Linked DNA regions of Homo sapiens. The protein of the gene in region 1 interacts with the protein of each later gene in a pairwise test. Each region holds a gene or a part of one and is shown on either strand. Other genes may lie near its edges. The genes, in order: MAP3K3 and TOM1L1.

Evidence for each region.
Region 2: the proteins of MAP3K3 (region 1) and TOM1L1 interact in a two-hybrid assay, tested with the Homo sapiens proteins (one large-scale study listed by BioGRID and IntAct).

Annotation. Positions count from the first base shown.
Region 1 is NC_000017.11:63,632,194-63,636,015, forward strand, and holds part of MAP3K3 (mitogen-activated protein kinase kinase kinase 3), read left to right. Parts: intron 1-487; coding exon 488-609; intron 610-2,515; coding exon of another isoform or gene 2,516-2,608; intron 2,609-3,822. UniProt on the Homo sapiens protein: Component of a protein kinase signal transduction cascade. Mediates activation of the NF-kappa-B, AP1 and DDIT3 transcriptional regulators.
Region 2 is NC_000017.11:54,949,065-54,952,886, forward strand, and holds part of TOM1L1 (TOM1-like protein 1), read left to right. Parts: intron 1-453; coding exon 454-559; intron 560-980; coding exon 981-1,062; intron 1,063-2,837; exon of another isoform or gene 2,838-3,822. UniProt on the Homo sapiens protein: Probable adapter protein involved in signaling pathways. Interacts with the SH2 and SH3 domains of various signaling proteins when it is phosphorylated. May promote FYN activation, possibly by disrupting intramolecular SH3-dependent interactions.

The DNA.
Region 1 (3,822 bases):
GAAACCATTAAAGGCCAGGCATGGTGGCCCACACCTGTATGTAATCTTAGCACTTTGGGAGGCCGAGGCAGGAGGATCACTGGAGTCCAGGAGTTGGAGACCAGCCTGGGCAACATGGGGAGACCCCGTCTCTACAAAAAATAAAAAAATCATCCAGGCATGGTGGTGCATGCCTGTGTTCCCAGCTACTCAGGAGGCTGATGTGGGAAGGTCACTTGAGCCCCAGAGTTGGAGGCTGCAGTGAGCTATGATCACGCCACTGCACTCCAGCCTGAGTGACAGAGCAAGACCTTGTCTCGAAGAAAAAAAAGAATCCATTAAAATTCAAATTGCCATAGTCTGACCTTTTGGGCTGCATCTGATTATAGTTACAGGGTCTGTCATTTTACCTGGGCAGAACTCCCTGAGTATTAGTTATACAGTTTGTGAAAGAGCTTTGCTGGTCTGTATTTAAGTGTCTTAGTCCATGTGCTCTCTTTCATTGCAGACGAACAGGAGGCATTGAACTCAATCATGAACGATCTGGTGGCCCTCCAGATGAACCGACGTCACCGGATGCCTGGATATGAGACCATGAAGAACAAAGACACAGGTCACTCAAATAGGCAGGTGTGTGTGACCCTGGCAGAGCTAAGTGAGATTTGTTGGGGAGGGGTTTTCAAATGGGAAATATACGAAAAGCCAAGGAGACTACATTACCAGGGTTGAATGCTTTTGACCCCTTCCTTTCACAGTCTGTTAAATGGGAAGTAATACATACCAACCAGGTATGGTTAAATGGTAAGTGATATTGGGAGGCCGAGGCAGGCGGATCACCTGAAGTCAGTAGTTTGAGACCAGCCTGGCCAACATGGTGAAACCCTGTCCCTACTAAAAAACACAAAATTAGCCAGGTGTGGTGGTCCATGCCTGTAGTCCCAGCTACTCAGGAAGCTGAGACAGGAGAATCGCTTGAACCTGGAAGGCAAAGGCTGCAGTGAGCCGAGATAGCACCACTGCACTCCAGCCTGGGCAAGACAGAGTGAAACTCTGTCTCAAAAAAAAAAAAAAAGTTATATATGCCATGCAGTTATGGATCTATGATTTGGAGTCTTAAAGCCTTGTGTAAGCATTTCATCTGTTATGGGGACAGTATTCATATTCGTTTTTCCCCTTTACTGATATTTGGCAAATATTTAATTCAGATTCATGATCCCTAAGTCAGAAGGTTTTTAGCTACCTTACAGTATATAGTCAGGAAAAACTAATTAATTTGGTATTAGCTTATGTAAAATATAATTAAGAAGGTAAATTTATTAATTAAAATGTCACCTAGTATATTCTGAAGGCAATAATGAGTGATTTTGTTATTACTGTTTACAGTTATTTTACCTTATTAACCTTATTGATAGTGCCTGTTTTATTGAGAGTTGTATGCTTCTTTAGGAAAACATTGCCTATTTTCCTTAACATTTAAACTTGTGTGTCATTGACAATCTTCTTCTCACCTGTAGTGCCACTTACCTGTTTCCTGGGTACTTTGTTCTGCAGAGAGGAGTGAATGATGGGGAGCTTTCCTACCTAGTGGGTATCCAGTGCTGTGTCAGCTAGCTATATTGGGCATGTTTGATGAAAATTTGTGTATGACATTCTCCCTTTTGGTTCTGTTTGTTATCAGCTAACCTCCTTTCTTCTCATTTGCACCTTGTTTACCAATTCTTCAGAATTGGTTCCTAGAGATAGTATAAGGCCCTAAAACTTTTCCTGTCTGTGGTCTGCTAGATAGAGCCTTCCAGAGTATTTCCTGCCTTTAGGAATCCTAGGGACCCCAAGGGAAGAGGAGTCCTTTTGTTTCATGTTAAAACAGAAGGATTAGTTTAAAAAGCTGCTTTTGTTGTTGTTACCTTATAGTACTGGAGGTATAAACAGATAAGGGCCCATTCTTACACTATTTTCATATGTTATTCAGTCTGACTGTGTGAGTTCTCCCTTGCTATAACTCATTTGTATTCAAAGCCACTTTTCGAAGGAGCATTTTACCAGAAGTGAGTCCCCTCCCCCTTGCTTGAGCCTAATGACCTCACTTTCCTTCCTGTCTTCCTATGTAGTGTGTGCTTGCTAACATTGCTCCAGTTAGCTGATCTTTCTCCAGACTGGACTATTAGCATGAATATCAGTTAGTGGGTGAAAAGGGGAAGCTTTCTTGAATTGGAAGGCCCAAAAGGACGAGGCTGGGAAAAGGAGGGGCGGAATGGTCACTGATGGTTCCTTGAAGGAGGATTCCTTTTTAGGACTCCTTCTGCTTAGAGCCTAAAAGCCATGATGAGGGAAGTCTTGATCTTTTGCTGTGCCTGCTGCTGCGCTGGTAGAGTGAAGTCAGTGGTTATGAAGGCAGAAGCCTAAAAAGGATTGACTGTTAGGAAGTAATCTTAACAAGAGGTACTAGATCTTTGGATCCATGATTTACTTCAATGTTGTCAAACTTATGTTGCACGAAGGATACAAATTATTAACCTCAGTTTTTTTGTTTTTAAAGAAAAAACACAACAGCAGCAGCTCAGCCCTTCTGAACAGCCCCACAGTAACAACAAGCTCATGTGCAGGGGCCAGTGAGAAAAAGAAATTTTTGGTAAGGATCCAGATTACCTGTTAAAGCCAAAATGTACTTTTAAATCTGCTACTCATGCTGCAACAGCAGAATTCACTTCCCAGACAAGTTGTTTTAGTGGATTTGTAAAAAGCATTGGTTACCCGTGACCTGTGTTCAGTGCTTCTAGTCACCATTTCTCACAACAGTATTATTCATAAACAGCCTCTATCAGTGCTGTCCAATAAACCTTCTGTGATGACAGAAATGTTTTATATCTCTGCTGTCCAATGTGGTTTTGTAGCCACTAGCTACATGTGGCTGTTGAGCAACTAAGGAACTAAATTTTAAATTTTATATCATTTTAATTAATTTAGACAGCCACATGTGGCTAGTGGCTATTGTATTGGACAGCATGACTTTATGCACTATGTAAGGGACTGTTGATTTATTGGGCAAGAAATTATGTATATGCTTGGAGATGTGTAGATATTCATTGGTATGTTCATTCCTTACACACGTCATGAGTTTCTGTACATTGTGATAAGCTAATAATGGGAATCCTACCTAAGATTTCTGTTTTAGGAAGAATGTGAAGATGTGGAACTAGAACAGCTGTTTAGAAATTGAAGCTCAAAGTTTTATGTTAATATGGGCAAAAGGGGAAATAAAATGCTAAGATAGCTTTTCCTCTTAATGAAGTCAAGGTTATAGAATGGCCTGTCCTGGGAAGTGTAGCAGATGTTTTGCTTCTGACCAAGAGGGATATTCTTCAGCAAAATTCTGAAAGCAGAAAAAGACAAAGTCTCAGCAAATGCATTTCTAGGAAAGATAGGGTAAGAGGTAGTGCGGGGAAGATGTTGGGGAGAGGTATTTATAGCCTAGTATAATGAAAGGAGCCTGGTGATATTAATAATCATTTAACATCGGATTTTATAATTCACAGAGTTACACATTTATTATTATTATTGTAGTTTTTGTTAGCCTAGGCCTGAGATAGAATGAAACAGTTTTCTTCATTACCAGTTCTTCTGCCAGAAAGTCCATGCTTAGGAAGAGAGAGGAATGAAAGATCAAAACCTAATTTAAATGGTGAAGAGTTGCCAAATTTGGTTAAGAAATGTCTAATTGGATTACAGATTCAAATTACAGAGTCCCAGTTGAAAGAAGCTAAGCATTTTGGCTAGCTGGAAAGGTTGTTTATTCAAGGGTGGAATGGGGCTGGCAGAGGCAAACAGCCTTTCACTATGAGAATG
Region 2 (3,822 bases), 8.7 Mb from region 1:
TTCAGTCACCTAGGCTAGAATATATAGCATGATCATATGATCATAACTCACTGCAGCTTCAAACCCCTAGGCTCGTGATCCTCCTGCCTTGGTCTCTGGGGTAGCTGGGACTACAGGTGTGAGCCACCATGCCCAGCTATTTTTTTTTTTTTTTTGTAGAGTTGGGGTCTTGCTGTTGCCTAGGCTGATCTTGAACTCCTGGGCTCAAGTAATCCTCCCACCTATCCTCCCAAATTGCTGAGATAACAGGCATGAGCCACCATGCCCAGCAGAAAAGTAGTAAATCTCGTAAGTGATTATTACCTAAAAAAACTAAAGTAATAATTAAAAACAACTTATTCTTGTCCAGTTCAAAGTTCTTGGAACAATGTACTTGCAAGTGTAGGAGTCTCAGTAATAAAAGAAAAGCTTAATGTAGAACGTTTATATGAACATGTGTTATGCTTTCTTCAGTTTCTGGAACATTCAAATTCAGTGTTTCTACAGCCAGTTAGTCTACAAACCATTGCAGCAGCACCATCAAACCAGAGTCTGCCACCTTTGCCCAGCAATCATCCAGGTACATGGGACCTTATTATTCGCATCAAATAAGGAAACTTATGAGAATATATGAGTCTGCCAGAGATTCATTGGTAACTGAAAATAGGAGAAATTAGAGATGCTCTTTTGTATTTTTAAGCTAATGAAACAAATTCAGGGCAGATACCATTATGACTGACTTATAAGAGACTGTAAAAATGCTTGTGTTAAACTGAGTATTGTGTTTTGAATGCTAAGGTAAATGAATCTTTAGTTGAGGTTTGGAAACCTTTTTGATACATACAGATTTGTTGAACTTGGGAGTAGCATTGGGACACCAGTCTGTTTTGGTTGTGTTTATTAGGATCTAATATTTGAAGTCTAAATTATAAAAAGAATATCAATTGCGTGTACTCCTCAAAAAGCACAATATGTTTACTGGTCTCTTTTTTTGCCCAAAGCGATGACAAAAAGTGATCTCCAGCCACCTAATTACTACGAGGTAATGGAGTTTGATCCCTTAGCTCCTGCTGTCACTACAGAGTAAGTCATTTACAAAATGATTAATTTATTTTTTGTCTTGGTTCCCTTTGATAGCAGAGCTAACAGGGCTTGGTTATACATTTAACTTTGTTTAGGTCTTGGCAGAAATTGATGGCCTTATTAAAAATGCCTTATGAGGTTTTATGGCAGCTGTTACTCTTAATGGTCTTATCGTTCCGGCCTTGTGACTAAAAAATAAAAATGCTGGGGTTGCATGTTAAGAAATAACTGGAACTAACCTGCTTAATGGACTCCTCATAGATCCCTTGGCAGAAAGTCATGTTCTCTTTAGCTTGAGAAGGGTACTAGTCACTGATTGGTGACATAAGTTTATGCCACATTGATGGAATATTTTAGCTGCTCTTTATGAACTGATCCAAAAAAATCTTATATTAGAACTTGTTTTTAGTCTTCTAAAGCATTAGTACAATTACTTTTTACTTAAAATCCTTAAAGCAACATTCTTTTATGATTTCATATTGGTCAAGATATATAAATATTAATGGAATGGTAAGGTCATAAGAACTTTAATATACTTTGAGTGACTGAAGGTTACCCCCAAATTGTTAAAAATTATTAAAGCACGTTTATTGGAAATCATTGTTCAGAAACTGACAGCCTACAGGCTCTATCTTGCTTGCAGTTGTTTGTTTTTGACCTGTGCAGAATTTAAAATGTGCATTTAAAAAATTAATTGCTGGTTTGGGAAACTCTCAACCATGTTTTTCCTCAGCTCTCACTCTAATATAACAATGAATGCAGAGACTTCTGTGGCCCCCAAATATGTGAGGATTTCTCCCCATCAGCAGGCAAGCAATGAATTCTACAATGGACACCAGCTGGGTGTCCTCTGATTCAATTCCAACACCATCTACCTGGAGATAGTGTCAGACCCCACAGGTTGAGAGCTCAGTCCCCACCACCCCGACACCTACCTTCCCAGACACCAGTCACAAGCCTGGGCCTCTAAACTTAGGACTGACTGGCTTCAAGTTGGGGTTCCCATGACTGCTTCTTTGGGTTTGATTAGTTTGCTGGAGCAGCTCACAGAACTCAGGGAAATACTTATATTTACTGGTTTATTATAAAGGACATTGCAAAGGATGCAGATGAAGAGATGCACAGGGCGAGGCATGCGGAAAAGGCCATGGAGTTTCCGTGCCCTCCCTGGAGTCCCACCCTCCAGGTACCTCCACGTGTTCAGCTATCCAGAAACTGACCTGACCCAACCCCAACCCAGTCCTCTAGGGTTTTTAATGGAAGCTTCTTGATGTCAGCATTCCTTCCCCCAGGGTATAGGGCAGGACCCTCTCTAGGGAGGCTCTTATGACCCACAGTGACAAAGGTGGGCGATTAGAGTGGTGCCTTGGGGCAGGTGAAAGGAGGACTAGAGAAGGTCGAGAGATTCTGCTTCCAGAGGCTGGCTCCTAAGGCCTGACACACCCAACATTATAACAAAAGACTGTAACAAGGGCTATGGGAGTTGTGAGCCAGGAACCTTAGACAAAAACCAGTATGTATCATAAGACCACAGTTGCCAACAGCTGAAAACTCGGATATTTGAAAATAAAAATTCTGGACTTCTAGATCATTTAGATACTCTGTCAACACGAAGCCTGAATTTTTACGTGCTAGCTATGGGCTGGGGTTGAGTAGTAGCTATCTCCTTTACACAGGTAGGCTCTGCAGCCCCTCAGGTCCTGTTACCACCCAAAAAACCCAGGGTTCATTCACCTGGATAGTAACAGATATCTGACTCTCCACAAGGACACAGGTTTTGATCAATAGGAATTTTATTACTTAGCACAAGTAAATTCTTTAGGGGCCAGGATCAGAAAGCGTTCTTCTGTAACTTCTTCATGTTGACCAGGGACACTGTATCCAGAGATGTTAGAGGAGTGAAAATCTCTAGGCACTAAAACTAAATATGTTTTAGGGTCTCCCAGGATAGGTTGCAAAGGCACCTACAGTTGAAATTTTTCTAATCTGGAAGATACAAATTTTACGAAGAGGTTAAAGATGCAGGGACCAAACAACAGTAGTAAGAGCAATAAAATTAGTGGCCTCATTAGGGGAAGAAACCAAGTAACACTTGGTATTGCTAATTTGAGAACTTCTCAAACAGAATTAGAAGTATGGCTATTAGGCCTGATGTGGTGGCTCACCCCTGTAATCCCAGCACTTTGCGAGGCCAAGGCGCGCAGATCACCCTGAATTCAAGATCAGCCTGGGCAACATGGTGAAACCCCGTCTCTACTAAAAATACAAAAATTAGGCAGGTGTGGTGGTGCGCACCTGTAGTCCCAGCTACTCAGGAAGGTGAGGCAGAAAAATCGCTAGAACCCAGGAGGTAGAGGTTGCAGTGAGCCCAGATCGTGCCCCACTGCATTCCAACCTGGGCAACAGAGCGAGACTGTCTCAAAAAAAAAAAAAAAAAAAAAATATGGCTGCTGATTAAAAGTGTGGAACCAAGAGGCTTGGGCATGGACCTTCCTAATGTTAACTTCCTATTTCCCCTGAGGTATTTATTCAGGTACAGCAAGAGGAATTAATAACTGCACACTCTCCTCCTCCCTGTTCTGCTAAGAGGCAGTCTAATGCTATACAATTATCTAGTACCGCATTAGCCAAGGAGTCATATGAGGCCCCAAGTCTGGAACTTCCCCAGGAACTAGGGCCAGCATGGCAGTGCCATGGGCTCAGAACACCTCTATTCTGTCCTGATTTAGAGAAATTGTGGCTCCAAACTTAGTCAGAAGG